Linked DNA regions of Homo sapiens. The protein of the gene in region 3 purifies or fractionates together with the protein of the main gene of each other region. This does not show direct contact. Each region holds a gene or a part of one and is shown on either strand. Other genes may lie near its edges.

What was found. Proteins that work in one complex are often made in the same cells at the same time.
Region 1: the proteins of CLEC11A (region 3) and PKP4 purify together in Homo sapiens (affinity purification with mass spectrometry; 4 studies listed by BioGRID and IntAct, with this or other methods). This does not show direct contact.
Region 2: the proteins of CLEC11A (region 3) and PRRC2B purify together in Homo sapiens (affinity purification with mass spectrometry; 4 studies listed by BioGRID and IntAct, with this or other methods). This does not show direct contact.

The regions. Positions count from the first base shown.
Region 1 is NC_000002.12:158,662,727-158,670,032, forward strand, and holds part of PKP4 (plakophilin-4), read left to right. Parts: intron 1-170; coding exon 171-362; intron 363-545; coding exon 546-719; intron 720-3,121; exon of another isoform or gene 3,122-3,355; intron 3,356-3,686; coding exon 3,687-3,837; coding exon of another isoform or gene 3,838-3,851; exon of another isoform or gene 3,852-3,938; intron 3,939-6,993; coding exon 6,994-7,189; intron 7,190-7,306. UniProt on the Homo sapiens protein: Plays a role as a regulator of Rho activity during cytokinesis. May play a role in junctional plaques.
Region 2 is NC_000009.12:131,389,429-131,397,166, forward strand, and holds the start of PRRC2B (protein PRRC2B), read left to right. Parts: upstream 1-4,657; 5' UTR 4,658-4,835; intron 4,836-7,738.
Region 3 is NC_000019.10:50,719,050-50,726,260, forward strand, and holds CLEC11A (C-type lectin domain family 11 member A precursor), read left to right. Parts: upstream 1-4,314; 5' UTR 4,315-4,476; coding exon 4,477-4,623; intron 4,624-4,855; coding exon 4,856-5,042; intron 5,043-5,360; coding exon 5,361-5,552; intron 5,553-5,972; coding exon 5,973-6,418; 3' UTR 6,419-6,659; downstream 6,660-7,211. UniProt on the Homo sapiens protein: Promotes osteogenesis by stimulating the differentiation of mesenchymal progenitors into mature osteoblasts. Important for repair and maintenance of adult bone.

The sequences.
Region 1 (7,306 bases), on a different chromosome or scaffold from region 3:
CACAAACACTCTAGAATCATAATTCTCTCTTCAGATTGTTTCAAGTTCTCATAAATAAAAAGTAGTTCTTTCATATTTCCCATTTATTTCCTGTCTGTAGTGTTCAGTACAGAAGTGTTTTGCTCTAATGTGCCGAGTTGTTTTTAATTATACGCCATGCTGGGTTTCAGACGGTGGAGAACTGCGTGTGCACCCTGAGGAACCTGTCCTATCGGCTGGAGCTGGAGGTGCCCCAGGCCCGGTTACTGGGACTGAACGAATTGGATGACTTACTAGGAAAAGAGTCTCCCAGCAAAGACTCTGAGCCAAGTTGCTGGGGGAAGAAGAAGAAAAAGAAAAAGAGGACTCCGCAAGAAGATCAAGTTAGCATTTTATTTTATATGAGACTCTCAAGTTTAATTTTTCTGGGAGTGAGGAATCACATATTTGGCAAGAAAATAAATTTTCTGCATAGCTATAGCTGAGTCCCGCAAAGGTGAATGTTTTCAAGTATTGGAGATCATGTTCATTCTGCCTCCATTTAACGTGTGCTGTTTGTCTTTCAGTGGGATGGAGTTGGTCCTATCCCAGGACTGTCGAAGTCCCCCAAAGGGGTTGAGATGCTGTGGCACCCATCGGTGGTAAAACCATATCTGACTCTTCTAGCAGAAAGTTCCAACCCAGCCACCTTGGAAGGCTCTGCAGGGTCTCTCCAGAACCTCTCTGCTGGCAACTGGAAGGTAGGATGACTTCCACTTATCTACACTTCTTTCCATCTTTGCAAACTAACTTGAAATGTTATATATATATGTTCTGCCTCAGTCAGATCAGCCCTGATGGTGAAAGGGTCACAGCTACTTAGCTTGTGTGTGAAGGGGTTAAAGGGAAAAAAGGGAGACAAGCAGTTGCTCTGGGGATACAAAGATAAATACAAGTCCCTCACTATGAGAAACAGAAGGCTAGTGAGAAAAACAGATGGTGCCAGCACAGTGTAGAAGCCACAGGATGTATGTGCTGTGGGGTCCTGAAAGAAGACATCTAACCCAGCCACACAGTGTAAGGGAAGGTCAGGAAAAGAGCGGAGTAAGGACGTGGAGGAGATTTCCTGAAGGGGATGCTGCCCGGCAGAATCTCTGAAGATGAGTGAAAGTAAGCCTGTAGAGGCTGAGGCTGTGGTATGGAAGGAGCCATCCAGATAACAGGGACAACAGGAGGAGGACAGTCTTGTGGTGCAGAGAAGACGTGTGGGCCAGGACTACTGGCTGCCCACTGGGGCCCACCATGGAGCCAGGCATCATGGATAGGCCTGAAGGCCAAACTTCAGGAGCTGAATCCTAACCTACACACAGGAGGGACTACCGAAAGAGTCTGGGCAGATGAGTGACAGAGACGGGCTAATATCATCACTGCTCCCCCACTTCCATGGCAGTGCAAAAGGTGGATTCGAGGAAGGGAGAGTTAGAAGCAGGGATTGGATTTGGGAGCCAGTGCAGCAATACAAAGGTGAGAAATCTTGAGTGGCAGGACAGAACACAGGTTGGGCAGCACTGTGGGGAGGGATAGAGGACCTCTGTTCCTCTCAGACCGTTACAGACATGCCTGTGTCTAAGGTTTCTGCATCTTTTTGCAAATGTATGAGTATGAAAACTGAAGACAGTTTCCTTTTGTTACCACTGTAAGCAAGTTCTCAGAACTTTCTAAATGTCCCCCAGCAACTTCCCAGACAGTCCTTGTCTGAGACATTTTCAACCTCTAGTAATTTCTTGACAGGTGTATTTTAGTAGAGTTACTACAATGCTTGCTGTGGGCTTCTTCCCCCACCTTAACCCCCCAAAATGAGAATCTTTTGGTGATGGTGTTTTCAAGATAGTGAAAAGCATTGATAAGCCTAGGTATGGTTTGTTTCGTGCACGTGGCCACTATGTTGAATATAGAGCGATAACTATGGTCTAGTGCTAAGCCGGTGTGGTTATTTTGTTGTGGCTCCTAGTTAAAGTGCCAGTGACTGAGTGTGTAAGTGCTGGCTCTGAATCCAGGCCACTCTGCTTACCGTCTGGCAGCCTAGGGGCTCTGCCCACAGTTTCCACCTCCCTAAAATAAAGTGAATATTAATACCTGCCTTATAAAGTGGTTATGAGGATTTAGTGAGATACTCCCAGCACATAAGTATTTATAAACATTTATGTTGTAGAACAGCGTTCACCTTCAGCTTCTGTGACCAGAGGATCATTTGATGATAATAAAAGACAGTAATTGAAATCGATGTGATTTGACTTATTTAGAAGTTCATGTCTGGGATCATTTAGTGAGAGAGTTAGATGGCAAAGCTCATTTAAAATATAAACATTATATCTAAGCGATTTCAATAGTGAGTTAAAATATTGGACCTTCACTAAGAAAATGAGATAATCGTGGCCACAGATGTTATCAAGTAAGAAGCTATTTCAGGAGCAGTGATGACTGTAGTTCTCCAGAAGGGAGACGGGCTGGGCTGGGCTGGGCTGGTAGGTCTCCAAGTGAGACAGAAGGAGATGGTTCTGTTGTTGCAGGTTTCAGAGAGAAGTTCATAAAACTGCCTGAGTGCTTTGCCTAGTAACCAGTCATGTACTTCATTTTCCCCCCATAGATTTCATGTGATTTGAAAAATAGGAGTATGCATTTCATATGCAGAATATAAATAGGATCTTTGAAATGCATCTTTCCCTCTTATTTGTATTATTAAAATATTCTGTTGGTATTCAAGAAACTGGATGGTCAATCACATATTTTAATGTTCGAAATAATACAAAGGGCTGGTAGATCTCTGTCCTACTGTCTTGGTCACAGCAGGAAAGTATATGTTTTATGAGCAGCATCTTTCAATTACCCTAAAATTTGAAAGATGATTTGCATTGGTTGAAAAAGTCAATTAAAGCTCAAAGCTGGAAACAAGATTAAAGAACCGTTTTCTAACGTTACTCTTTTTGGTTGTTTCACTGATGACTTAGCGCTCATTTCCATTTTATAAGATATACAAACTGACTCACAGTACAGAGTTGCTTCATAGTCACAGAAAAATTTCTTGACTATGGATTTTTAAAAAACAGCATCAGCAGCTAACTAATCTTGAGTGAGAATGCATTTTGCACACAAATATACTTACTTTTTCACCAGGCTGTATGAATTATGATGCTGGATGTTTCTGGAGATTTCCCTTTCTTCTGAGGCAAGGGATTTTTCCAACTAATCTCTTTGACAGGTTTCTGAACTCGAAATATTGTTGCAGGGAATATAGAAAAAAAATGACTTGATGGAGACAGGTTCTCCTTTCATGTGTGCTGATGGGTTACTGTCTCTGCCATCCTATTTATAGCCTCTGGGTTTGGCAGGGGACCAACTGCAAAGAAAACACACGATCCTTCCTTAATCATGTTTATGTATCTGAGATAGAAAGTAATCACTGCCTTCTCTTTTCTGCACAAAAATATCTGGCAGATGGTGGTTTGAGATTTTCAGGCTTTGGGATTTCTTTTTAAATCAGTCATTCCAGCCTATCTTTCTCCCCAACTTTGGTTTTCTCTTCACTGACACCACAGATTTGATCTTCAATTGGAAAGAAACCATTTAATCTATTAGTTCATCTTTTGGAAACATCTTTTTTAGGTGACAGTAACATATGAGACTGGAACTCTGTTTTATGTTACTTCCTGCCTTATTTTTCTCACTAGTTTGCAGCATATATCCGGGCGGCCGTCCGAAAAGAAAAGGGGCTCCCCATCCTTGTGGAGCTTCTGAGAATGGATAACGATAGAGTTGTTTCTTCCGTGGCAACAGCCTTGAGGAATATGGCACTAGATGTTCGCAACAAGGAGCTCATAGGTATGTTCTGGTGACAAGATGAGCTGTAAATGTGAGAGCAGCTACAAAATTCATGAAACTCTTCTTTTGATTAATAAATATATGGCTTGTAAAATCATTAACAGCTGAGCCCTAGTCTCCAGTTTCTTGGCATATTTGAGTACTCCTGTTTTGTGACCATTCTTTTTCAGCAGGAGGCAAGCTCATTAATTAGTCATTGATTAGGGAAGGTAAATTTTCAGAAAGGCCAGCAATTTTAGTTGTACCTTACAACACTAGTAGGGTTAATGTCTCTCATTTCTAAGAGAGTTCTCTATATCCTGAGCAACAAAAAATCTTAATCTCCCTTTCCAATTTTTGGACTGCTACCTGCTAATTCACCAACACTACCATACTCTAAATAAAAAATCACATGAATGTTTTGTAGCTTTCCCCTCTCACATTGGTATAAATCTTTATCCCAGAGAAGAACCACTGTCCCAACATCATTTCCACCCTGGGCAGGGGCAGGACTAGGGTGAGCTAAGCAAGGCGCCAAAGGCACAACATTTTAGGAGGCCTTTACTCTCAGGTTTGTACAAGGTAGGGTTGGCACATGCACAAACCAAACAGTGAGGACCTCTGTACGCTCCGCACCCCAGGCAGCTTGCTTGCCTCTGCGGCATTGCCACATCCTAGGCAGGATGCGGGCTAAAGAAGACATCAGGGACCCCCATAAACCTGAGCTTCGTTCCCAGGATGTGCTGCTCACTGGCCATGCAACCTGGGGTATCCTATATAACCCCGTTCAGGCTCCGTAATTCTATCTAGATTGGAAATGAAAGGCAACTCCTCATCTCTGAAGGGGAGCTGTTGATGCCTGCTGTCCTAACTGGGTTTGCTGTAAAGAGGAAATGAGAGAGCTCCATGCCAAGTCCCACAGCTGGTGACAGGTCAGGGGAGAAGGAGGGGAAATGGGACAAGATCTTATGTGGATTCATGTGAATCTATAGTAAACTTAAAATACACCTGCCATGAGAGAAGGAGAGAGAAACAAGGGCGATGATGTTTACCATAAAGAATTGCTGTAAGGATTAAACGTGATGACTTACAATGGAAGCCCTTCACACAGTGCCTGACAGAATTGCTATTTTGAATTGTTGCCCAGATTAACCTGCTCTTAACACACCATTCCTTTAAGCCAAATCATCCCCCTACGGAGAGGAAAGGAAGTTCCTCCTCACCCTGTTCATGGTCCAGCTCATGCCTGATTCTTGTAGATGTGCCATATCTCTCAGTTCCCACACTTCCTTTACAGAAATCCTTCAGGTCCCTAAAGAGAGATATTCTTTAAAGTTATTTTTCTTACGTCTGTATTGTTTGGATTTCTTATAAGAAGCATGTATAATTTGGGCATTTTTAATGCTAAAAAATAAATGGTTGACACGTATATCCTGTGGCCTGTCATATTTCACAACGCAAAGACACAGGTAGACAGGAGTCCTTGAGCTGGTACTGTGAAGTGCTAAGACCTTTGGCAAGAGGAATGTGTGTTCCAAGTCTTGGCTTCCTCTCAGTGCATTTCTGTGTTTTCTGTGAATAACCCTTTTTAACTTCCACTGGCCTTCTGCCTCTCCAGTGATGAGCTTTTTTTTTTTTTTTTTAACCTGGCTGGAGCACTCTTGAACTGTTCCATCAGTCTGTTTTTTTGTTTCCCTATTCCCGTCTTCCTGTGAGATCTGCCTCACTCTTGGATTCAGTATTTGGCTCTAATTTACCCAGTACTTCAGTTCCTAGGAACCTTCCCCTTCTCTGACCTCTTCCCTCTTTTTTCACATTCATCATCAGCACTAGCAAAGGACTTTCTTTTCAGAGCCATTTTTCACAAAGAAGCAAAGTTTTATCACTTCATAAAAGTTACTACATACTCAACTGAGTGGGACCCACCCTGCTGTCTGGAGCTGCAAGTTCTGAGGGGACCGCCAGGCTCACTCATTCATAGGCAGAGTGAGCTGCCTCGGCCTAACCCCCAGGAGTGCAATTTAAAGTTATGCCTTAGCAAAATGACAAATTACATGTCATGGGCCTTTTGGTCATTCATGAGTATTCAAAATCACCAGAGCTAACTTATCATCTGCTCTGAAAACCACATTTATCTTGTGGCCTTACAGTGTCAGCACTGTTTTTCCACTCTTCATAGCAGTGTTTGTCGTGAGCAAGCCAGAGCCTTCCCTCTGACGTGCTGTACATCACACAGCATGTAGCTGAGACCTGTCTTCTTCTGCTTACCACTGTAAATAAACAGGCCTTTATAAAAAGCGATTGCACATCCACTCAATTATTAGCATAGGGGAGAACTAAGAAGATGTTTACTTGCACTTTAGTTCATTTCTTTTGTTTGTAGTGCACTTACAGTTTGTCAGTTGGTAATCGAAGTTGAAAAAGCTAGAGGTAATCTCTTTTTGGAGAGGAATAAGAAAAATTCAGTATCTATAAAGAAATACCTCAATAACTGTGAAACTCCCCTTGCCTTGTCTTAGCAAGAATTTCATTATTATTGCATTATTCCTGGGAGATAACATACCTATAATTTTAATACCAGAACTTTTACTTGTGTCATCTTTTAAAGAAACTAACATGTTGCCACCGTTGTCAGATGAGTTGCTGTACACCTCAGCTCTATACACAAAAATGTGTAACTGTACCCAGTTCATACATTAAGATCCAGAAAGATCTAACGAAAAGTATTGTTTGGCAGCCTGACTTGGTCCAGATTCAAAGGTAAGTTTTAAAAAGCTCTAAGAGGAAATTGAGGTATTTGTGATGCATAGGAATTCCATTGAGAATAAAATTTACTATTATAATTCCTTCATTACTCAATGTTACTGAAAATACTCGAACGAAAGTAACTTGATTTGTCTACCCAATTTTACGCATTGATTTACATTTGCTTTCAGCAATTGACAGTAATGTTTTATAAATGAATCATTTCTGCAAGTGACGTTGCAATAAATGTTAGCTTTCCCCTTATAATGACATTTGTCCTTTTCTTCTTTGCCATGGGTTTTGATTTTTTCCCCTATTATTGTCTCTTTGGGGGTTTTATTTTTAAGAGATTGCATGCCACCAGAATCTGAACAACAATAACAAAAACCTAGTACCTTCTGGAAGTAGAATTTACTCTTTTGCCGTTGGCAGGCAAATACGCCATGCGAGACCTGGTCAACCGGCTCCCCGGCGGCAATGGCCCCAGTGTCTTGTCTGATGAGACCATGGCAGCCATCTGCTGTGCTCTGCACGAGGTCACCAGCAAAAACATGGAGAACGCAAAAGCCCTGGCCGACTCAGGAGGCATAGAGAAGCTGGTGAACATAACCAAAGGCAGGGGCGACAGGCAAGTCTGCGGCAAGGAGGTGCAAGCAGTGCTCTTATTCCTGAGATTGTCCTGTGATGAGGCCTTTGTTGAGGATACCTTTCCTATTGGAAAGGATTTATTTTTGCATTTCTTACA
Region 2 (7,738 bases), on a different chromosome or scaffold from region 3:
TCACATGCATGAGCCACTGTGCCTGGCTGGGCAAGTCACTGAACTTTCTGATGCTCTATTTTCTCGACTGTTAAGTGCAGGTATTCAAAACACCAGGTATGTTTTCTTCCTCTGACACCTTGCTGGATGCTTTGTCCCCATAGTGGTGACAGTAGGGGAAGGGAGGCTGGGCACCCACCTCCAGGCTTGCTGAGGTTTGGAGGCTTTAGTGCATGTGCTTATTTGGCTGGTTTTGTGAGCCGTGTGTTTTGTGTGGTTGGTCAGGAGCCATGATTTTGGCCTCAGTTGTCCAGGCATCCACTTTTCAACCACCATGGAGATTGAGTGCTTACTTTGTGCCAAGCTCTCTTCTCTGCTTGGGGATCCCAGCTGGAGAGACACCACAGTGCTCCCCACCCAATTTTCGCAGGTAGAAACTCTTAGGCACCAAAAGGCTAGCTCTGCTGGTTGGAGACAGAACCAGAACTAAAACCTCGGAACATGGTTGTTTTTTTTTTTGTTTTTTTTTTTTTTGAGATGGAGTCCTGTTTTGTCGCCAAGCTGGAGTGCAGTGGCGATCTTGGCTCACTGCAACCTCCAACTCTTGGGTTCAAGCGATTCTCCTGCCTCAGCCTCCCGAGCGATTACAGGTGCCCGCCACCACGCCTGGCTAGTTTTTGTATTTTTGGTAGAGACAGGGTTTCACCGTGTTGGCCAGGATGGTCTTGATCTCCTGACCTCGTGGTCCTCCCGCCTTGGCTTCCCAAAGTGCTGGGATTACAGGCGTGAGCCACTGCGTCTGGCCTGTGTTTGTTTTATTGACTGTAGTGGCCCTTCTCTGCCCAGTTCAACAGCATGGCCCCAGAGCCTGGCACAGTGAGCACCAGAGTGCAGGTGCCCAGTGAATGAACGGACGAACTTTGATTCCCAGGGCTCTCCTCTGGGCTAAGCACTTTGCAGGGATGGATGACTGCATGCCATTCTCTCCATGAGGATGGTCAGGGAGGTAGGAGATGGCTGAGCTGGATTTGAAGCCAGGTCTCTTCTCTCCCAAGACTCCTAGCTTGCCTTTTTTTTTTTTTTTTTTTTTTTTGAGACAGAGTCTTGCTCTGTCGCCCAGGCTGGAGTGCAGTGGTGTGATCTCAGCTCAGTGCAAGCTCTGCCTCCCAGGTTCATGCCATTGTCCTGCCTCAGCCTCCCGAGTAGCTGGGACTATAGGCGCCCGCCACCACGCCTGGCTAATTTTTTGTATTTTTAGTAGAGATGGGGTTTCACCATGTTAGCCAGGATGGTCTCGATCTCTTGACCTCGTGACCCACCTGCCTCGGCCTCCCAAAGTGCTGGGATTACAGGCGTGAGCCACTGTGCCCTAGCTTTTTTTTTTTTTTTTTTTTTTTGATACAGAGTCTCGCTCTGTCGCCCAGGCTATAGTGCAATGGTGCAATCTCGGCTCACTGCAACCTCCACCTCCCAGGTTCAAGCAGTTCTCCTGCCTCAGCTTCTTGAGTAGCTGGGATTACAGGCACATACCACCAGGCCTGGCTAATTTTTGTATTTTTAGTAGAGACAGGGTTTCACCATGTTGGTCAGGCTGGTCTCGAACGCCTGACCAAGTGATCTGCCCACCTCAGCCTCCCAAAGTCCTGGGATTACAGGCTTGAGCCACTGTGTCTGGCCCTAGCTTGCCTTTTAACCCTTCCCTCGCTGTGTTGCCTTCAGCAAGTCTCCAAGGTTGTACTAGTTTTCTATTGCTACATTACCACACATTTAGTGGCTTATGTAACTTTGTTATCTTAAAGTTCTGGAGGTCACGGTGGTTGGCAGGGCTCATTTTCTTCTGGAGGCTTTAGGGGAGAATCCATTCCTTGTCCTTTGTAGCTTCTAGAGGCAGCCTGCATTTCTGGGCGTGAGGTCCTGCGTCATTCCTTTGTCAGTCAATATGATGAACTCCGCTTCATCAACCACATCTTCTCCGACTCCGACCCTCCTTCCTTCCTCTTGTGAGGACCCTTGTGATTCCACCTGCCCAACCAAATAATCCAGGATTCATCTCTGCATCTCAAGATCCTTAACTTCATCCCATCTACAGAATCCCTTTTGCCAGAGAAGGTACCATTTTCACAGATTTCAGGGATCAGGACTTGGACATCTTTGGTGGGGGGCATTGTATTGCCTCCACAAAGTCTACTTTTCTTCTCTGTTGGATGGGCACACTAGTGTCTGTTTTATGGGTATGTCGTGAGGATTACCTGAGTGACTCTATAGGGAGTGTTTAGCACAGTGGCTGTCACATAGTAAGTGCTCAGTAAACCACCCTGTTACTGTTCAGCCTCCTCCTATCATTTTGTTTTGAGACAGAGTCTCTCTCTGTTGCCCAGGCTGGAGTGAAGTGGCGTGCTCTTGGCTCACTGCAACCTCCACCTCCTGGGTTCAAGTGATTCTTGTGCCTCAGCCTCCCGAGTAGCTGGGATTACAGGACCCCACCACCATGCCCGGCTAATTTTTGTATTTTTAGTAGAGACGGGGTTTCACCATGTTGGCCAGACTGGTCTCAAACTCCTGACCTCAGGTGATCTGCCTGCCTCGGCCTCCCAAAGTGGTGGGATTACAGGGGTGAGCCACCACGCTTGGCCTTACAAATAAAGAATCTGAGGCTTCAGATAGTTTATTTCTTTTTTGCTTGTTTATTTTCTTTCTTTTTTTTTTTTTGAGATGGAGTCTCACTCTGTCACCCAGGCTGGAGTGCAGTGGCATGATCTCGGCTCAGTGCAACCTCCGCCACCCGGGTTTGAGCAATTCTTCTGCCTCAGCCTCCCAAGTAGCTGGGATTACAGGCGACTGCCACCATGCCTGGCTAATTTTTGTATTTTTAGTAGAGATGGGGTTTCACCATATTGGTCAGGCTGGTCTTGAACTCCTGACCGCATGATCCACCTGCCTCGACCTACCAAAGTGGTGGGATTACAGGTGTTAGCCACTGCGCCAGCCTTACAGATGAAGAACCTGAGGCTCAGTTTATTTATTTAATTTATTTTTTATTTGTTTATTTGCCTTCTATCATTTTTATTAGTTGCTGGGTTTTGAGCACTGGGCCAATTCTATGGCCTTCCTGAAGATGGTCAAGGAACAAAATCGAAAACAAAAATTAGGGTTACATCCTCCCTGTTTTGTAGAGATAGCGAAATATTGAAGACATTGGCAGGGGAATAATGCAGATTTGATGATGTAAAACAGAGTGGCCGGCACTGTAATCCCAACACTTTGGGAGGCCAAGGTAGGTGGATCACTTTAGCGCAGGAGTTCCAGACCAACTTGGCCAACATGGTGAAATCCCATCTCTACCAAAAATACAAAAATTAGCTGGGCATGGTGGCAGATGTCTGTAATCCCAGCTACTCAGGAGGCTGGGGCAGGAGAATCGCTTGAATCTAGGAGTTGGAGGTTGCAGTGAGCAGAGATTGCGGATTGTGCCACTGCACTCCAGCCTGGGGGACAGAGCGAGACTGTCTCAAAAAAAAAAAAAAAGAAAAAAGAAAAAAAGGATAACACTGAAAATGACCATGGATAAAATGTAGGAAAATTCAGAGAATTATAAATAAGGCTATAAAAGTATCCAGAATTCTACTCCCCAAAAACTAAGCTTTGTTCACCAGCCTCAGTTCTGGAGTTAGGCTGAAGTGGGTTAATTTTCCTTCTGGGTCCAGCAGTGTGGCCTGGGGCACATTCTCTCAAAGCCTCCTTTGTCTCACCTGTGAATTAGAACAATAATATCTGCCCCTGGGTTAGGATTAAGTGAGACAAACCACGTGCTTTAGCATAGGGCATGGCCCGCAGCTGGTGCTTAGAGCAACCGTGACTGGAAGAGGGTGGGATGATTTGGGTGCCAGGCCCTAACATTTTTTTTTTGTATTTGCTTTTTGAAATTGCTTTTATAGTTGGTTAGGTGTCTAAAAAAGTAAGAACCCTCCTCCGCTCTCCCAACCTCAAACCACGGAGGTAACCAAGACAGGAGTGCAGTCTCCCGGACCTTTTGTTTTGCAATCACACAAACACACAACACTCAAGAGGAGGGGCTTATTAGTTTTCATTTTGTAAAAATGGGACAAAGTACCCATATTGTGCAACAACCTTGCTTTTGAAATGAAAAAAGTATTATTTCTGCTTCCTTTCCGTTCATATACCGTATACATATTTTAACAAAATCCGGGCTTAGTCTGTTCTGAGGCGCTGCAGTTTTGAAGGGGGAGGGGGCGGAGATCCGGGCTCGCTCCCCCGTCACTGCCCCCTCCATCCCTTCCCCCTCTTTCCGGGCGCCCTTCCCCCGGGCCCAGGCCGGGCCCATGCCCTTCCCAGGCCCCTTCTCTTGGCTCCTGGCCCCTCCTCCGGGTCTCCTCCCCGATCCCCGCTCTGCCCCGTTCTCTCCCGCCTCTCCCGCCGTCCCCGGGCCCCTCCCCACTCCCAGCCCCCTCCCAGCCCCCTCCCGCCGCTCCCCGCCCCTCCCCCCTGGCCCCAGCCCTCGCCCGGCCCCCGGGCCGATCCCAAGGCCGCCGCTCCCGGGAGGCGCGGCAGGGGGCGCTGCGCGGGCCCAGGTTGCGGGCGGCGGCGGGAGGAGGAGGACGAGGAGGCGGGGGCGGCGGCAGGCGGGGGGCGGGGAGCCGAGCGCGAGGGAGCGAGCGGCGAGACAGGCGCCGAGGCTCCACCGCGCAGCGACGAGCGAGCCCGGGAGGAGGGAGGGAGCGAGCGAGCGAGCAGCCCGCGCCGCCGCCTCGCAATCCGCCGCCATCCCGCCGCCCCCGTGCCCGACCGCCGCCCGACTGCCATCGCCCGGCCCGGCCGCGCCCGCGGAACCAGACCAGGTGGGTCGGGGCCGGGGCCGGGGCCGGGGCGTGGGGGCGGCGGCGCTAAGATGGAGGCGGCGCGGCCCGGCCGGGCTTTGTCTCCCGCGGCCGCCGCCGGGGGCCCGGGGGCCCTGCGGCCCTGCCCGACCTTTGTCCGCGAGCGCGGCCGCCGCCGCCTCCTTCCCGCCGGGCGCGGGGCTGCGGGGCTGGGAGGCCGCGGGGCCTGGGGGCGGCGGGCCCGGGCGCGCTCGCCATTGTTGTGGCGGCGCCGCGCGGCCTCAGGCTCGGGCGGGGTCCAGGGGCCGCGCGACTCCCTCAGGGCTCGCCCGCCACCCCCGTACCCCCGAGGCCGGGCCGGGCTGCAGAGGCCGGAGGGGCGGGGGTCCCGGGCCCGCAGCCGGGTCTCGGGGTTCTGGGGCCGGCGTCTTTGCTCCCCGCCCCGCCCAATTGACGGAGCAGCGCGCCCGAGGCGGGATCCTGCGGGGTCGGGCCTTGGGTCCGGGGCGCTGAGCGGCGTTCGCGGGGCCGTTCCTGGCGCGGGGTGGGCCGGGCCCCGGCGGCGCTAAAGTTGGCGGCTGGGGGAGGGAGGCGAGCGGCCGCCCAGTCTCGGTGTGAGTGCGGGAACCAGAGGGTTATTTTCGAAATGCTGAATGCTCCATGCTAAAAATGTTTAATAATAAACAGGATGTCGCCACTCGGGGCCTGCCAGATGGGGTTTTTTTTTTTTTCCTCCTCTTTTGCCTCCCCTCAACCCCCAGGAGAGAAATTCAGCCCTGTTGAAACTGTGGGCCTCTGAAGAGTGGATTTGCCTTAAGAGGTGGATTTTTTTCCTTTTTCTTTTTTCCTCCTTCTAAATATCGTGGGAGGTCGGAGCCCACCTTTAGGCAAGAATTGGAGGTGTTTTCAGTGGTGAGCTTGAAGGAAGTGGGAGAAGGGGGGCTGGGGAGTGTCTTTTGCTAAATGGCTTCCTGGGAGAAATCTTTAAATGCCTTTGGTTTACAGGACTGTTAAACTTTCCCTAAGATTTTTTTTTTCTTTAAGGTTTAGTGTGCATTTGATGTGGCTTTGTACAGTGTCATCCAGTTTGGTTTTTGTAACCAATTGTGTGCGGTCTTAGCATGGTTTTTCCGAATCTCGCTGCAGCCATTTAGTCATGTCTATGCACAGCGCTGTGGTGTAAGGTGGGACTGGGGAGGCCCAGGCATTGGGGTGCAGATCCTGCTTCTTTCTTCCGTAAACCTAGTGACTCTGGGGCTGTCTGAGGCTTCATCTGCATAAATCGGGGCGTGCACCCTCCACCTGGCAGGTTTGGGCAGCGGTGAAGGGCCTAGCAGAGGGCCTGGCACAGTTAGTGGTTCCTCCTACGGTTGTTGGTATAACTGCTGTCAAGTCCTAGGACAGACGTGAGCCCCTTGTGGTGCCACCCATAGAGCCAAACTGTGCCCATGGATGCCACAGGTGCTGGCCTAAGGCATGGACAATACAGAAGGAATTCAAGGCCCAAACATTAGTGGGCGCTTATACAGTGCTGAGCCTCTCGGGAGGCAGGGATGGGAAAAAGTAGCATTTGGAGGTCTCTAGAACTTAGTAGACCCGGAGTGTGTGGCAGTTGGTCAGTTTAAGGCAGGGTTAGAACAGTACGAGATGCTCAGGACAAACAGACGCCCAAGGAGTCCTGCCTTCTGAGGATAACTGCTTTCCTTGGGGATTGGCAGATAATCATCTGAGAGTGAGTTTCTACTTGTTTGGGCAAGTGTGTCTCTTGGAGCCTGCGCAGCTGGATTCTGGTCCTCATCGGGTTACCTTTACAAAGCAAGTCTCTGAGGCTCAGATCTTGCATCTGTAAAATGGGAATAATTATGCCTGCCTTGGGTATCTATTAGGGCTCTTGGGAGCCTCACTTAAGATTCACAGTGAATTGTTTTCTCTCCATAGGAAGGTGATGAAATGTATGTGTTTGTTGATTATCTGTTTTTCTGGTTCCTTTCTCCTTCCTTCCTCCCTTGCCCTCTTCCTCTCTCCCTCCCTCCCTTTCCCTTCCTTTTCCTTCCTTCCCTTCCTTCTTTTTTCTTTTCTTTTCTTTTTTTTTTTTTTTTTTTTGAGACAGTCTCACTCTGTCGCCCAGGCTGGAGTGCAGTGATGTGATCTCAGCTCACTGCAACCTCCGCCTCCTGGGTTCAAGCGATTCTCGTGCCTCAGCCTCTGGAGTAGCTGGGATTACAGGCATGTGCCACCACACCTGGCCAATTTTTGTGTTTTTAGTAGAGACAGGGTTTCACCATGTTGGCCAGGCTAGTCTCAGACATCCGACTTCAGGTGATTTGCCTGCCTTGGCCTCCCAAAGTGCTGGGATTACAGGCCTGAGCTACCGCGCCCGGTCTTCTTTCTCTTAATGCTTATTTTTTCCTCTTCTCTTGGTTGATGGAACTGTGACTTCCCCACCCCAAATTCTATGGCCGGCTAATGTTTTGCTATGGTGACTATCACCCATCTACCTGGAAGCACCAGAATGGCTTAGTACAGCTAGGGAGCTCAGCCAGATCTCGGTGTCTGCTGTTTGAGATTGTGTGGAAGGACTATTGCTAAGAAGCAGGAGACAGACTGAACCCAGTGTTGGCCACAAGTGAGGACTGAGACCCAGGTCACCTCTTGGCTGAACATGTTAGCTTGTTGGTAAATGGCTCTGCAGTGGTTCTGCATTTTATTGGGGAATTTGTTTTGGTTCATTTTGGCATTCCCGCAACCATCTTGTTGGTTTTTTGGTAAAATGTGGCACCCCCTCCAGACCTCCTAGCTGTGGAACTGAGATATTTTAGCAGGGTCCTGTCATCCTTTGATTTTTCCTCGCTTCCTGCCTCTTGGCCCTTCCTTTTTGTCTGACTTCACTCGGGCCCAGTCTGGCTCTATACTGTTAACTGGTT
Region 3 (7,211 bases):
GTACGCCAGGGAGGGCGAGGCGGGGGAGTGGCCGGGCTGGGCGGGGAGGCGGGTACCAGGACCGAGCCCTTGGCCCCGGAGAGCCGGGAGGCGGGTTCGGGATAGGGGCTCTGCTGGCCGGGGGTGGGGGGCGCGCCCTCCCATCAAGGATGCGATCTGGGACGGGGCACCGGGGACCCGGGCGTAACCCAATTTGGTGTCGCCCAGGGCAACGCTCCCCACCTCACCCGTACCCCCAGCCGCACACCCAGGCCAGGAGCCCGGCGCCGGGCCAAGGACATCCGGGGCGCCCTCGCCCCCTCCCGCGGCCCCGGCCCCGCAGCTGCCCCAAACCCCCAGGTTCTCGACCCCCTTACCTGCCTGGCGGGGCTGCTGAGTCCCGGTCGGCGGCGCCCGCGGCCCCTCCCCCCTCCCCCCACCCCCCACCCCCCCGGAGACGGGGACCCTCAGGCCATGCCCCACCGCCCCGGAGGGCGAGCGGGCCCGGGGAGGGGGCGGGCGGGGACCGGGGGGGAGGGCGGGAGGGCCGAGGACCTCACCCCCCCCGCGGGCCGGGCCTGGCCATCCGCAGAGCGCCCCCCCTTCCGCCGCGGCCGCCGCGCCCCTCCTCGCCCGCCCCCGGCTCGGTCCGGCCGGCTCCGGGCGCCGCGTCTCCGCCTGCTCTTCCTCCTCCTCTTCCTCGGGCCGCCGCCGCCGCCGCCCGCTCCGCGCCTCCTCTGCCACCCTTCTCGCTCTCTCGCTCTCGCTGTCTCTCCCTCACCCTGTCTCTCTCCCTCCCTCTCTCCCTCCCTCCCCTCCCTCCGCCCTCTCCCCTCCCTCCGGGAGCCGGCGGAGGAGACATCGCCCCTCCCCGCGCCCCCAAACCTCGCCCATCCCCCACCACCGCCGGCTCCGCCCCCTACCCTTGCCCTCCCCCACCACTCCTCCCCACCTCCGAGTCCCCAAATCCTGACTCCGCCCCTGCTTGCTCCCATACCCCGAGGAAGGGGTCCTGCCCCCATAAGGTGCCCCCCCACACACACCTCAGGACCACCCCCTCCCAGAGAGCTCCCCGCCGCCCTACACAGAGTGGGGCACAATAAATATTTGTTGCCAGACTCTACACCCCCAAATTTAAGTGTGAAGGCTATAGATTCCCACCCTGTCCCCCCAAACACACACACACCCTTTCCATTTAAGCACTGGGTCAGGGCACACGTGGACATACCTGGGCCAGGCCACATTTCCCCAAGGCACAGGTGCATAGTCACCAGCTGTAACGGCACCTGCAGAGTCCCCACATACACACACTCTCCAGCGCATGCATGCCCAGACACAATGCACCTGGGGTACACAGCTACAAACACACCCAGCTACATGCAGTTGTCACACCCCTGTGCCCGGGCACACACGCAGCACATGCACACATTTGCCCACCACACACGCACGTGCGCGCGCACACACGCACACAGGCGTTCACCCCGGTATGCATGCCCAGATCTCTCAACACCAAAACGGAGTTACAGCACTGTAGAGACGTGTGCACGCCTTCCCATCACACCCACCCACCGTGCTGTCCATTGCACTGGCTCGCACTCACCCGTTTACATGCCCAACACCGTGCCATCCTTCCCCTCCAGGATAGTTACTGCTGACATTCCTGGAGCACTTTCTGTGTGCCAGGCTCAGGGACTTTCGCCATCCCCATTTTCCAGAGGGGGAAACCAAGGAACAGAGAGGCTAAGTAACTTGCCCAAGGTCATCCAGCTGTAAGGAGGTGGTAACAAGGATCAGGAACAGGTAGGCTGGCTCCAAAGTCCTCACTTGACAACTATGGTGCACTACTGGGCATATCCCCTCATAGTTGCATATCCTTATTCATCACACACAGACACACCCAACCGTCTCCTCAGAGTTTGCACATGTCTGTGTAGGCACGCATATGCAGCCAGCTGCAGGCAGACAGCTCATTCATGCCTGGGACGCACCCACAGGGACAGAGCAGATCCCACAGGGCAGCAGTGAGTGGTGAGTGTCCCCTTAGCCCAGGCTTCCTCATTCTCCCAGCTCCAACAGCACCTCCAGGGCCTGCAGGGGGCAGTTCTAGGCAGCTTCTGGGTTCCCCTCCAGCTGCAGGCTCTCCGGGGTACCCGAGTATGAGCTGGAGGAGGTGCCTGCTCAGCCTGGGGAGGCCTCTATCTTGATGCGTACCCACTAGCCCAGGTGGTGAGCAGCTGGGCCCGGGGAAAGCACAGCTGCCCATGTTGGCTCCAGCAGCCAGAGAGGCTGTGCACCCCTGCACACTTTACAAGGCCTTTCCCCACATACGCATTATTTCTTGAGGTCTGTAGCTCCTGGTGAGGGGCCCCAGGTTCCCGATGGGCACCTGAGAGGCCCAGGCTCTGAGGCAGGGAGCAGTCTGCCCAAGGTCACAGTGCCCTCGATGTACCAGGATTTCTTGGAAAACGGAAGGCTGGAGGCACTGATTTCCAAGGCCCCTCCTGGGGCTCCCGGCAGCCGAGGGCAGATGCCCTGCTCTTGGAGCCAGAAACCTTGGCTAGCTGCCGCCACACTGGTGACCTCCAGCAGGCTATGCTGTTTCAGAGCCTCGGTCTCCTCCTTTGAAGAGCAGGCCCAGTGATCCTTGGCTGGTGTGCCCCATGCTTGTTGGCACCACCAGCCAGGCCTGGGCGGGAAAAGCCCTGCATGACTCATGGGCCTGACATAGAGGGGCATGGCATGGCATTGTTCTTCCTTGCCTCCAAGCCTCTCTCCCACTGCCCTCACCACCTCTACCTACCCTGCCACCACCACCCTGGGAACTTGGGTGCCAGCAAACCAAAGAGGTGAAGCTTCCAGGCCTTTGACCCCACCAGGAACGGCTACCCTCTCGCCCACTCAACAGGTTGATTGAACACCTACTATGTGCTAGGTAGGCCTTGTGCTAGGAGATGCATCAGTGCATAAAAATCCCTGCTTTCATTGGCAGGGAACAGACATAAACAAACAAGATCATGCCAGTCTTGATTATACCAAAAAGATGAAATGGGGCATTTTAATAAAGTAACTTGCGGAATAGATAAGGTGGTTGGGGAAGACCTCCTGGAGCTGAGACCTCGATGATGAGAAGGAGCTGGGGAAAGAGGCTTCTAGAAGGAGGAAAGGGCTAGTGCAAATGCTCTGAGGTTGTAATCAGCTTAGTATTTGGGGATGAGCCAAGAGGCCAGGGAAGGTGGAGGCTGGGGGTGGGTGAAGGGAATGGGGGTGATGAGGCTGCAGAGGTGCAAAGGGTTCTTCCTTCCCAGCCCCCAGCATGGTAGGCTGCGCTGAGGACTGAGGCCCGGGCTTGGCTTCCCTCCTGCTTATGATGGGAAGGTGGGGGAGCAGGGGAGTGGGGAGTGATGTGATCTGATTTATGGTTTGGAAGGATTGCTTTGGCTGCGGCAAGCAGCCGGGATTGGAGGGGCTCAGGAGGAAGGAGGGGGAGGGCGAGACTGCAGTGGTCCAGGCTGAAATGAGGTGGCTTGCTGAATGCTCAGAGCTCCTTGAGCACACAACCTAGCGTCTGTCGATTTCACCTCCTGGAGAAACCTTCCCTGACTGCTCCGCCAGACTCCTCACCCTCTCCCATCTCCAGCCCCCTCATCCCCGGAGCTATCTGGCTGCTGGTCTGCAAGCAGCTGGAGTCCCCAGCATCACCCAGCCCACAGCCTGGCCTGCAGGAGGCTTCTAGTAAAGTGGCCAATTAATCCCCGAGCCCCGTCTTCCAGGGTCATGCACACAGTCACACGCGTGCTCTTCACATGTGTCACCCTGCCCCCACACACACTCACTTGGATCTCCAGACAAGGGCTTGGAGGGTAGGATGGGCAATCTAGGGGGCAGGAGGGGCCCTGGAGTCTCCTCCATTGAGTGTGCAGGCGATGGTGGCCACAGGGTAATAACAACCTCAGCGAGACCCTGAGGTCTGCCCCTCCTTAGGAATGGCCAGGCAGGGAAGAAGGGAGCAGTGCTCGGTCCCAGCATCCCACCACTGCCGAGATGGTTCTGAGCGGGTTCCTGGGCTGAGGCCGGGGCCTGTGTTTTCCAAGATTCCTTGGAGAGCCAGCTCCATCCTCTTCCTGATTATCTGATCTTTGGGCTACAGCAGAAGGAAAGAGCAGGGCGGAAGCGAGCTCTGGAAAGTGGAAAGAGGAGGGTGTGCGAGGAGACCCAAGGCGGGATCTAGGCTTTGGAACGTTGGAGGTTTCCGGCCACAGAGGCAGGGCCTCCGGGGAGCCAAGAGGGGCGGGGAGAGACACACACAGAGAAGCAGAGGAGACCAACGGACCGGACAGAGACGAGGAGAGGAACAGGAAGAGAGAAGCTGGGAGAATCGGGAACCTGGGGGCTAGTGACCTGCACACAGGGCAGGGGCACTCGGCAGTTCCCAGAGGCCACCCCTCCCACCCCAGACATCCAGACATCTGGAACTTTGGGTGCCAAGAGTCCAGCTTAATGCAGGCAGCCTGGCTTTTGGGGGCTTTGGTGGTCCCCCAGCTCTTGGGCTTTGGCCATGGGGCTCGGGGAGCAGAGAGGGAGTGGGAGGGAGGCTGGGGAGGTGCCCAGGAGGAGGAGCGGGAGAGGGAGGCCCTGATGCTGAAGGTGAGCTCTGGAGTGTCAGGGAGCTATGGGTGGTGAACTGTGGGTCTGGGAGGGGGTATTGCAAGGTTAGGGAAATGGACAATGAGGAGCGATTGGGATAGTCTCAGAGGAGTGGGAGGGTGATGGGCTCAGAGACAGGACTCAGGCAGCAGAGAATGAGTTATGAGTTGGAAAGGGGTGAATGGGGCATCTTGGTGGCAGGCTGGGGCTCACCACCCCTCCCCTGCCCCAGCATCTGCAGGAAGCCCTAGGACTGCCTGCTGGGAGGGGGGATGAGAATCCTGCCGGAACTGTTGAGGGAAAAGAGGACTGGGAGATGGAGGAGGACCAGGGGGAGGAAGAGGAGGAGGAAGCAACGCCAACCCCATCCTCCGGCCCCAGCCCCTCTCCCACCCCTGAGGACATCGTCACTTACATCCGTGAGTAACCAGAAGCCCTCACCCCCAAACTCCTAGGCCGCCGCGGTCACTTTCGCAAAAATGAAGGGTCGGTTCACTGCCAAGTGGCCTTTCAGTTGTCCATTGCCCAGCCCAGAGCCCCCACACCCCTAGGAGCCCCAGGTCCACGGCCATGCCTCCTAAAGGCCTGGGCCACTCGACCCTACCTTCCAGGAGTCCGGGGTGCCCCCCCCACCGCCACCCCGCCCTCAGGAGCCCTAGATCCCAGTTCTCCAGGTCCTCAGGCCCCCCGCTGCATCTCCAGGCTCCCCCTCCAGCATGATCCCTGTCTGTCCGCAGTGGGCCGCCTGGCCGGCCTGGACGCAGGCCTGCACCAGCTGCACGTCCGTCTGCACGCGTTGGACACCCGCGTGGTCGAGCTGACCCAGGGGCTGCGGCAGCTGCGGAACGCGGCAGGCGACACCCGCGATGCCGTGCAAGCCCTGCAGGAGGCGCAGGGTCGCGCCGAGCGCGAGCACGGCCGCTTGGAGGGTGAGTCCGCGGCGCGCGGGGTGGAAAAAAATGAGACTATCTGGGCCAGGAATGGGACTGGTTGAGAAGGTGACCCTAGGTGTCCGGGGCGGGAGAGTTCGGGAGAGCTGCTGTGTGCTAGCGGACGGGGTTAGAGAGCTGGGAGGCTGAATGCAGGGAGCGGGTGGGCACTCCAGACCCGCGCGGACCCGACTGGGGCAGCACCACGCCCCCTACAGTCCAGCTCCCACCGCCTGGCCCCGCCCCTGGCGGACCAGACTCTCCACCTCCTGGCTCCCGCGGTTCTGACCACGCCTCCTCCCAGCCCTCCCCATGAGTTCCTGGCCCCGCCTCCCTCCACCCCCGGATGTTTTGTCCTCGCCCCCTTCCAGACTCTGAATGCATGACCCCGCCTCCTTCTCTACCCGGCCCCGCCCACAGGCTGCCTGAAGGGGCTGCGCCTGGGCCACAAGTGCTTCCTGCTCTCGCGCGACTTCGAAGCTCAGGCGGCGGCGCAGGCGCGGTGCACGGCGCGGGGCGGGAGCCTGGCGCAGCCGGCAGACCGCCAGCAGATGGAGGCGCTCACTCGGTACCTGCGCGCGGCGCTCGCTCCCTACAACTGGCCCGTGTGGCTGGGCGTGCACGATCGGCGCGCCGAGGGCCTCTACCTCTTCGAAAACGGCCAGCGCGTGTCCTTCTTCGCCTGGCATCGCTCACCCCGCCCCGAGCTCGGCGCCCAGCCCAGCGCCTCGCCGCATCCGCTCAGCCCGGACCAGCCCAACGGTGGCACGCTCGAGAACTGCGTGGCGCAGGCCTCTGACGACGGCTCCTGGTGGGACCACGACTGCCAGCGGCGTCTCTACTACGTCTGCGAGTTCCCCTTCTAGCGGGGCCGGTACCCCGCCTCCCTGCCCATCCCACCACCCGGCCTTTCCCTGCGCCGTGCCCACCCTCCTCCGGAATCTCCCTTCCCTTCCTGGCCACGAATGGCAGCGTCCTCCCCGACCCCCAGTCTGGGCGCTTCTGGGAGGGCTCTTGCGGTGCCGGCACTCCTCCTTGTTAGTGTCTTTCCTTGAAGGGGCGGGCACCAGGCTAGGTCCGGTGCCAATAAATCCTTGTGGAATCTGACTTGAGGGGCAGTGAAGGCAGTCTTGGACTTTATCTCCTGCAGGGGAAGCCGGGAAGGGCCAGACCCTGGTCTTTGGGCGCGTGTCCTGGCCTTTGGATGCCTGTTCTGCTTTTTACAGATGTCATTTGAGCCCCAGATGGAGTGATGGAGAAACACAGGTGCATATGTACACACGGTCATCTGTTCTGTGCACAGATGGCCGGAGTACACGCGTACAAACGCTGTAGACACCTTCACCTCCATCGTGCCCTCTCTCTCGGCCTTTGGGACCCAGGGCCTGCCAGTTGTCCCAGGCCTTGGTCTTGGTCCTGGTCAAAGAGATTTGGGAAACGTGAAGGGGCTAAAGGCTCTGACAAGTCCGGCAGGAAAGAGCCCGTTTAATTTGTTTAAGTGGCGTGTCCAATTTGTTTCCCCAGATGATATGGTTTCATGGACTTGTTGGGATGATATATTGAGACATGGACTTAAGGACTCACCCAACCCTGAAGCTTAGACTTCCTCCCAATTTTCCCTCCTCTGCTTCCTGCCAGTGAGGCCAGGAGCCAGTCCCT